2 linked regions of the Homo sapiens genome follow. The protein of the gene in region 2 purifies or fractionates together with the protein of the main gene of each other region. This does not show direct contact. Each region holds a gene or a part of one and is shown on either strand. Other genes may lie near its edges.

Region 1 (3,806 bases), on a different chromosome or scaffold from region 2:
GTATTTTTTTTTTCTTGAGACAGGGTCTCAGGCTGGAGTGGGTGGGTGGGTGTGTGTGTATTTTTTTTTATTGAGACAGCGTCTCAGGCTGGAGTGGGCCTTGACCTCCCCAGCTCCGGCAATCCTCCCACCTCAGCACCCCTGAGTAGCTGGGACCACAGGCACAAGCTACCACGCCCAAGCCAATTTTTTATTTTTCATAGAGAGGGGGTCTATGTTTTCTACACTGATCTTGAATTCCTGGGCTCAAGTGATCTATCCCCTCGGTCTCCCAAAGTACCGGGCTTATAGGTGCGAACCACTGCCTGGACAGAGCCGCCTTCTGTAAAACACTCACCTGGGCCACCCTGGTAGAGGGCGCCTCTTGGGGGGGATGGGGGATGCCAACCTCACAGGGCCTCCTATCTTTTAGTGCTGGTGTTCCAGAAGGTTCCAGTACTGGGAGGGACAGGTGAGTCGGCAGCAGTGGGCTCATGGCACAAAGGCAGCCCACGAGGGACTGTGTGCCAGGCCCATGGTGATGCCAGGCCCACGGTGGCCATGCTGACAAGGGAAGGAGGGAGCGGGGGAGCAGGTGGCTGTGTGAGCGGACGCCCTCAGGACAGGACGCAAGATACTCTCCCCTGGGCACCAGAGGGCCCCTCGAGGACGGACTCCCTCCAAGAGACAGGGACTGAGCTTGGGAAGACGTGATCCAGGGGCTCTCCCAATCGGGGCGCATTCTTTCCCCATGAATTGTTAAAGCCACGACCGGAACACGGGAGTGGACCTGCTGAGCGTCCTAACGTGTCTGCTGCAGGACCGATGCGAACTCATGGTGGGACCATCCGGAACAAGGCCAGGCCCAGGCCTCTCCCCTTGGGACGCTCACCCCATGTCTCCCTGGGGTTCCCTCCACGGTGCTGCCCTCATCCCTCAAGCTCCTGCCTCCCGCAGTGGACAGTGGCTCTGGCGCACCTGGGCTGTGTCTGTCTCCCTGCCTGGGCTGGGACTGTTCCAGGGCCCCTCAAGGCTGGAAGAAGAGCCTGACCGGCCGCCTAGTCCAGATGGAGAGACCTCTGGCCCCGAAAGTCAGGACCCCCCAGGAGGCCACTTTCTGGGGGAAGGTGCAGCAGCCACTGGAGAGCTCTGGATTCGGAATCCAGGGCCCCTGGGAAGATGCGGATGCGGACGAAGACCCAAAAACCAGAAGGAACCCCCGCCAGAGAGCAGGGGAGGGCTCCTCTCTCCAAGGACGCGCGTCAGAGCCCCCGAAGCGCGTCTGGGAGGTCACGTACCGGCTTACTCGTCTATACCAACAGAGCAGGAGTCGGGCCCCAGGGCTGCGCGGAGAGGGGGAGAGACAGACGGAAGCTCGGTTAGCAAGCGCGCAGCAGCCAGCACAGCCACAGCAAGGGCACCAGCTTGGGGACACGGTCGAGGCCGTCTAGAAACAAACACTCTGCTGCAACCACAGAGAACCACAAGGAGAACCACAGCTGGGAGGCAGAGCGCAGCCAGAATTCAACGCGGAGGAGCGCACTGGCCCTGCCCCTCCCTCCCATACCTCCCGCTGCCGCAGCCTAGGGAAGGGCGCATGAAGGACCTAACGGGCGCAGTCCACCTCTGGTTTCAGGAGTGAAGGCCCTGGGTGGGGGGCTGAGGCTAGACAGGACCGAGCTCAGGGCCAAGTCCAAGACACCAGGGCCCCCAGTGTTCACCATCTCATGGGCCCTCCCATCTACAGGGACAGCAGGGTTCAGTGATGCCGCCCACCCCGCCAGGCAGCGGCTGCACCCCTATGAGAAACCAAAGGCTCTGGCGTGTGTTCATGCCTTACGCACAGACACGGATAGACAGTCAAGGGCTCTGTGATGTGAAAAAGTCAGTGGAACAGAGGGGCCACCACATGGATTTAAAAACACACAGAAACCTGTGCTGACAAGGCTGACAGCCACGGAGATGGCGCCAAACAGCCCCCAAAGGCACATGTGCTCTCCGTGGCTCAGAACTGAGGCCGTGCAGGCTGACCTGCTGGCATTCAGCAGCAGCCAACTCCAAGAGCGGGGCCCAGGGCCCAGGAGTTCACCTCAGGCTGCCCCGATGTAGACTCGGCCTCTCCTCTACCGCCTCCACAGATGACGACTGCCTGCCCCCGTCTGTGGGCCTGAAGAAGGCCCGAGACCCTCCCCTGTGGGTGGGGCATGAGACTCGGAGTCCTGGCCTCCTCTGTGTGGGCCTCCTCTGTAGCTGTCCCAATCCTTCCCAGGCCTGGCCACAGAGGGGAGGCGCAGCCTCTGAGATGCTCCCCCACAGGGCCACCCTGCAGGATCAGATATCATGTTCGTGGCTCCCAGAAGCTGAGGTCCTTCTGGCCTCTTCCCCGATCACCCCCCAAGTTTTTAATCAGAATGAAATATTTGAGATCCTCTGAAAGACCTTACTCGAATTCTGTGTCACTTTAAGGTAAGCTGGTCCTAAACACACCTTCTGCTGTGAGTTGTTCGGGGCAGGCCGCTGTGGTCATCAGGGCACCAGAGGCAGTGCCTGCTCCTGCACCTGCGACCTGTCACGCCCAGCCCATGAGCACAGGCCACTGCTCAGCCAGAGTCCGGGGGCACAAGAGCCCCTTTCCAACTAAAGCACGTCACAACCACCCAATGTCAGGCCCAGGTCACCAGGTGACTCAGGAGGATTGAGCAATGGTGGGCCCTGGGGCCAGGAAGCGGGTGAAGCCTGGCAGCCGCGAGGGAAGAGCCACACTCCCTAAGCAGTGGCTCTGGGGTCATGTCTGAAAGCACCGTGGCTGTTTATCGCAGTTCCAGAGCCGCAGACAGCCTCGTGGCAGGTGCTGAGACACTAGTCTGAGAGCCCCCATTCCCTCCCGGTCTTTAGAGCTTAGGATTCGAAACTGAGGATCTTATCCCAGCAGAGCAGAGCACGAAGGTGCTTGGCTGATGGGGTCTGGGGCCCGAGCCTCCGGGAAAGGTGAGAAGAGCAACCCTCTGTCCCAGCCTTGCTGCCTTGCTGTTCCCCGCTGGCGCCTGGCGCCCCCGCCGTCCTCTGTGCCTGGCCTGGGATGTGCTGCTGCATCAGGTGGCCTCTGTCAGGCCCGGGGCAGGGTGACCCAGAAGACACTGCCCCTGCGCTCTGTGGCCCAGGGCCCCCGCTACCCAGCACAGCGTGTGGTACCTGCTCCTGCTCTGTCTGCAGCTCTCAGGCACTGCCAGGAGCGCACGTGGCACCCAGCATGGGGCCTGTGGGCCCACGATAGGACCAGGAGTGGGGGAACATGTGGTGATCCCAGTGGGGCCGGATCTGCCCTCCTGGCGTGAGCAGCAGGCAGAGGGAAAAGGACCCCATCCTCTCACAGGCAGCCTCTCTCGCGTCTCTCACCTCCTGTGGCCAATGTGGCCCCAGGGAGGGAAGGGGCTTTGGTGCAGGTTCCGCTCCCAAGAGCCAGGCCCTGCCTGAGGCTGCTTTGTGGCCATGGCCCTGGCCCGCATCCTGCTTCACGGTCAATAGCAGGGGCATGGCTGAGAGCCAGGGAGAGAACCAGGCTCCAATGGACAGCCTCTGCTGCTATGCACCGACCATCAGAGCAGGGCCCCCTCCCTGGGGACTAAGACAGGCACCCAGCCCCTCACCCCCAGACCCCCAGCCCCTTACCTGGCAGGTAGATGTCAGCAGGTGGGCCTCGGCCACAGTGCTCGGGGCTGCTGTCCTGCAGGACATTCTCAATGGAAGCTGCTCGGGTCCCTGCAGGCAGAGGGTGAGGTTAGGGACCTACAGGCAGGGGCCAGGTCCCGGCAGGTCCCTCTGGGCAG
Region 2 (4,554 bases):
AGTCACTGTCTCCAGCTGAAGTCAGTTTTCCTTGAACTTACTGATGTTGATCTTACAGAGTTATAAGTTACGCTTATCACTGTGAAGACTGGCTGCAGCCAGCAGAGCTCGCTATGGTAGGCAATGGCTCATCTGAATCCAGCGCACATCTTGTTTTGAATTCCGCATAGGCTCAATTATGAGAGGCCTTCAAGGGAGCCTTATTTTGGGGGTGGCTTTATTCTTTTTCCCCATGCCGGGCACAGGCAGAAGCATCTCTCGGTGTGATCATCTTGCAGGCCGCTGGGCAGGTTTACAGCTTTTCCGACACTTCACAGAGAACTGCTGCTTACAGTATAATTTCTTTTTTAATATACACAAGACTGGAAATTAGGCATGAATGACAATGTGATCACATCTTAGGACGAGCGAAGGAAAGTCCCGAGAATGGAAGCTTTTGCAGGAGCTCACAGCTAGGGAGGCATGAAGCCCAGGCTGGAGTGTTCTGGTTGGAAATCAGTGTGATGCTCAGCTCCCTGCACAGCCTCACCTGGACCACCACCTTCCACCCGCTCACATCTCCCGTCCTCTGAGCTTCACTGCTCATGGCAGGCTTCCTCCACGGTGCCTTCCTGCCAGTGTGACCCACTCGGACCTTTCCCTGCCACGGCTGTGCTGCTCACACAAACGCTTGCTGCCCCCAGGTTTTGATGCTGGGACACCTACTAGGTTGATTAGTCTCTGTAGTTTGCACATGTTGTTCTCCCACCAAGTCAGGCTCTGTGCGTTACCCATGCTGCTAGCACAGCGCTTGGCACACGCATATTTTGAGTTGAGAACTTACTTTAAAACCATCTTCCAAATTTTGTACCCTGGCGGCTCATAGTCAGAGAACAGAGAAGTTAAGACTTTAGGACTCCACCACACTTTAAGGCCCACTGGGTGGGTCTGCACCAGCGCTTGCCTGTCTGTTCACACGTTCTCTCTCCCTGGGCCTGGACACGTCCTTCCTCACTTCTCACACTCAGCACTGTGTCCTTGCCCAAGTACAGACTCTCTTCCACTGCCCCCGCATCCCAAGGGAGCCCAGGATTGCTGCCCGTCTATGCACCTGTAGCTGTTTGTTCTTATTTCTACAACGGCATTATTCACATGAAAACCCTGCAGATGGATCTGAGTTCCTTAGGATAAGACCTGCCCTGACCATGTCTGAGGCTGAGCCCTGCAGACAACCTGGCCCACAGCAATTATATTTGCCTAATGAAGGCAAGGAATGTGGCTTACACAGACAAGAAAGCTCTCATTAAAATGTATTAGACACTAAGGATTCCATAGGAAACATACCTGGGATCATTAACAAGGTAAAGAATAGGATTTTTTTTTTTTTTTAAGATGTCTTAAGTTGCTCTGAGGCAGTGAGAGGGCAATTTGCTGCTGAGCAAAAACCTCCTCTGCCAGAGATTCAGGATCCACTGAGAAGTCAGGATGGCTTTGGAGCTTATCTACCCCATTACCCTGGTTCATGCCCTCCTCCACCCCTGCCGCGGCCTAAGCGGTGTCCCAAAGGCAGGGTGAGGGCTCCCGTCTCCCTGCTCCCACAGCTCTTTGTGGGTGTGTGTCCTGTCTGGGAGCTAGTGTGAAGTGTTGTCTCAGTGTGCGCTGTCCTCAGCGCCGGGGCTCCAGGAGGCTCCACTCTGACTTAGGCTTGCAACAAGGCCCAGCACATAAGGGTTCGGTACAGCTTGATCTAGGCATGAATGTGTGAGCAGAGCCTGTGACCACCGCTTCACTCCCACTCCGGGGATGGGGTGGGGAGGGCATGTGAGGAGCACTCCTCCTTCTGATCTGCTCAAGGCTGTACTCTCTGGACCCCTTTGTACCCCTTTCCCATTCCTATCCCTTTTGGACTTTTTGCATGCATGTATGTATGTATGTTTACAAGTGTGCACGTGTATGTGTGTATATGTGTGTGTATGAGTGTGTGTGTGTAAGTGAAGAATGGGGACAGTTATCTGAAGGCAGCTTAGACAAACTGAAATATGAAGAAGAGCTGTTTAATCGAATGCCTGGGCCTCTTTTCTAGGTAACATGTGCCCCCCGACAGAGCCAGCCAAAGGAAGGTGTGAGCCCCTCATGATGGCAGTGACTGCATGCTTTCTGGGTGCAAACACTTTGCAGGAGTATGTGATAATCAGTATGCTTTTAGTTATTGTTTATCCTGCACCCCGTGTTGCTGCCTAGGAAGGTGGAGGCTGACTGAGCTAGTGGTTGAGAAAGGCACAGAAAGTGTGCGTGCATCTCCCAGAACTGTAACGTCACACGTGTGGATGGTGGAGTTGCTTAGACACCAATGCCTGAGGTTCAGGAAGCTGCCGCATGCCCACGTCTTTGTGGCGCTAAAACCCCCGCACTCTTACACCTAGACAAGCTGATCAGGTGAAGGGGCTAACTCCAGAAGTGATAATAGAAGCATGATTTGTTTCACCCCTAATTCTATTAGGAAAAAACTGGCTGTAGTCCTTGAATAGAGCTCAATGACAATTTGAAGAGTACTAGAGAAGCCAATAAATTCATTAATAGGGAAGATTGTTTTAGCTAGACAAAAAGGTAATAGCCTTCATTGTAGTAGTTTAATTAGAAAAATAATAAACTCCCTTAGGAAGGATGAAAGCCCATAATTAAAAAGATGAGCTATTTGGAGGAATTCTGAATAGTACCTCTTCTCAGATTTGTTCCTAGCTGCTCTATTCATGGTCCAAAAGCACTTAGCAAGCTGAGGAATTAGTGGAAAATGTACTTACCTTCAGCTCTGAAGCAGGAACTTTCTGGGCAAAATGAATGAGAAGGAATGAGCTCGGAGAGAAAAGCAAGCAAGTGGACCTTGGGCCGGGAAGGGCCGGAACACATGCATCACCGGAGATACAGCTAGATTGTTATCATTACCTTGAATAAATGTCATCCCACATGAACTGTGCATTTCTGGTAATGTGAAGTTAGAGAAATGGAAAGACACAGGCAGATGAAGACATAATTTCCATGAGCTCAGCTAGTCAAGGTTACTTCCAATGTTTATGACAATGTTTCTAGCAGATTATGGAATTGTCATCTTGCTCTTTTTAAATGCCACTTTAGAGTTGCATTTATTTCCAAAAAGAACTAAGGAATTAAATAAATCAGGTTTTTGAGAAAATGGTTTTGGAAGAATTTGTTTTAAAACTTCTAGCAAACTTCTTGATATATCTTGCAAATATTTGGCTCATTAGTTTCATTAAGAAGAAGGGAATAGCCCCATTATCCCTATTTCACAAGACTAAACAATGAGAGTGAGGGAACTGTGTGCTCAAGTGCACATATGACGCATGGGTCCAGACAAGAAAAAAACCCTGTGTTCTGCCAATGCTTCTCCGTCCAAAAACTTCACAGAAACCGCCATAGATAAGAGCCATCATTCAAAGCAAAATTCTTCCATTTTAGGGTGCAATGCTGTGTGTTTTCTGCCTGCCGGGGCCTGCAGGGAAGGGCTACTGTTGGTGTCAGTCACAGCAACAGGAATGTTGAAGTGTGGAATTGGGCCAAGTTTCCAGATGGTCCTGGGTTTTTGGGGCTGGGGCCAAACCAGTGGCTGTTTCTGAAATGTGAGCTTCCGCCCCAAGCTAAAAAGTGTTCACACGTGGGTGGTCTGGAAAAGACCAAAGAGAGAGACCTGAGTTGAATTTGCCAGGCGGGTAAACACAATTTTATAAAGTGGCTTTTCCTGGCCTGTCACTGAGGCAAAGCGTGTTGTCCCCAGGAACTCATGGACCCAGGATCATCCCAGACTTCGACTGTTTCTGAGTAGGTGTGTGCCTCCGCAACATGCCCTGCAGCTGAAACCCGGCGTTCCACAGGCCTCTTTCCCTCTTCAGTCATGTAGTTGAGATAACAGAGAAAAGCAAGGCATTGCCTCCAGAAAGCTACTGTATTATCTGGAAAAGTAGAGACAACTCGTCCTTAGCCCTTGTACTTGCAGAAGCAGAGGCCCTTTGTCAGAGATCTGTGGATCTGATTAGCTGATTGGGAAAACCGGTGGCCAGCCCTGGGGAGTGGGACATCAGGCAGGCTGCAGACAATGGGAACACTGTCTGGAGGAGGCGAGCCTCGGCCAGTCCCCTGGGTGGGACCTGGGCCACTCTGATTGGGAGGGACAGGGAGAGACTTCCAGCAGGGGGAAGGTTGCCTAGGGGTTTGGCTAAGCCCTGCAAAGAGAGTAGCTATTGCTATTTTAGTTCTTCCATTTTGGGGGCTCATCTCTCTCCAATTTTTAGAGAAAAGGGGGCAAAAATCTCTTGGAAGGAGCAGAGTAGAAATGACAGAGTTTAGAACCAGAAGACACGCGGTCAGAGTTCTGAGTGCCAGGCCTCTAGGACTCCATTGCCTGGTGTAAAGCGGGCTGTTGTGAGAATTCAGACTAGGTTTGTAACAGTGCTCAGGGAAATCTAAAACCATATGCCAATACCTATGGTTTTTGTTATAACCCTGTCCAAACACTCTTGAAATAGTGGTATTTTAAAAGAAATATCTTTGCTGTAGGGAAAC

The links.
Region 1: the proteins of MC2R (region 2) and MGRN1 purify together in Homo sapiens (affinity purification with western blotting, with the first as the bait; one study listed by BioGRID). This does not show direct contact.

What each region holds. Positions count from the first base shown.
Region 1 is NC_000016.10:4,683,775-4,687,580, reverse strand, and holds part of MGRN1 (E3 ubiquitin-protein ligase MGRN1), read right to left. Parts: intron 3,739-3,806; coding exon 3,649-3,738; intron 1,323-3,648; coding exon of another isoform or gene 1,282-1,322; exon of another isoform or gene 1-1,281. UniProt on the Homo sapiens protein: E3 ubiquitin-protein ligase. Mediates monoubiquitination at multiple sites of TSG101 in the presence of UBE2D1, but not of UBE2G1, nor UBE2H. Plays a role in the regulation of endosome-to-lysosome trafficking.
Region 2 is NC_000018.10:13,912,708-13,917,261, forward strand, and holds the start of MC2R (adrenocorticotropic hormone receptor), read right to left. Parts: upstream 2,830-4,554; 5' UTR 2,781-2,829; intron 1-2,780. UniProt on the Homo sapiens protein: Hormone receptor primarily expressed in adrenal cortex that plays a key role in regulating adrenocortical function. Upon corticotropin (ACTH) binding, facilitates the release of adrenal glucocorticoids, including cortisol and corticosterone.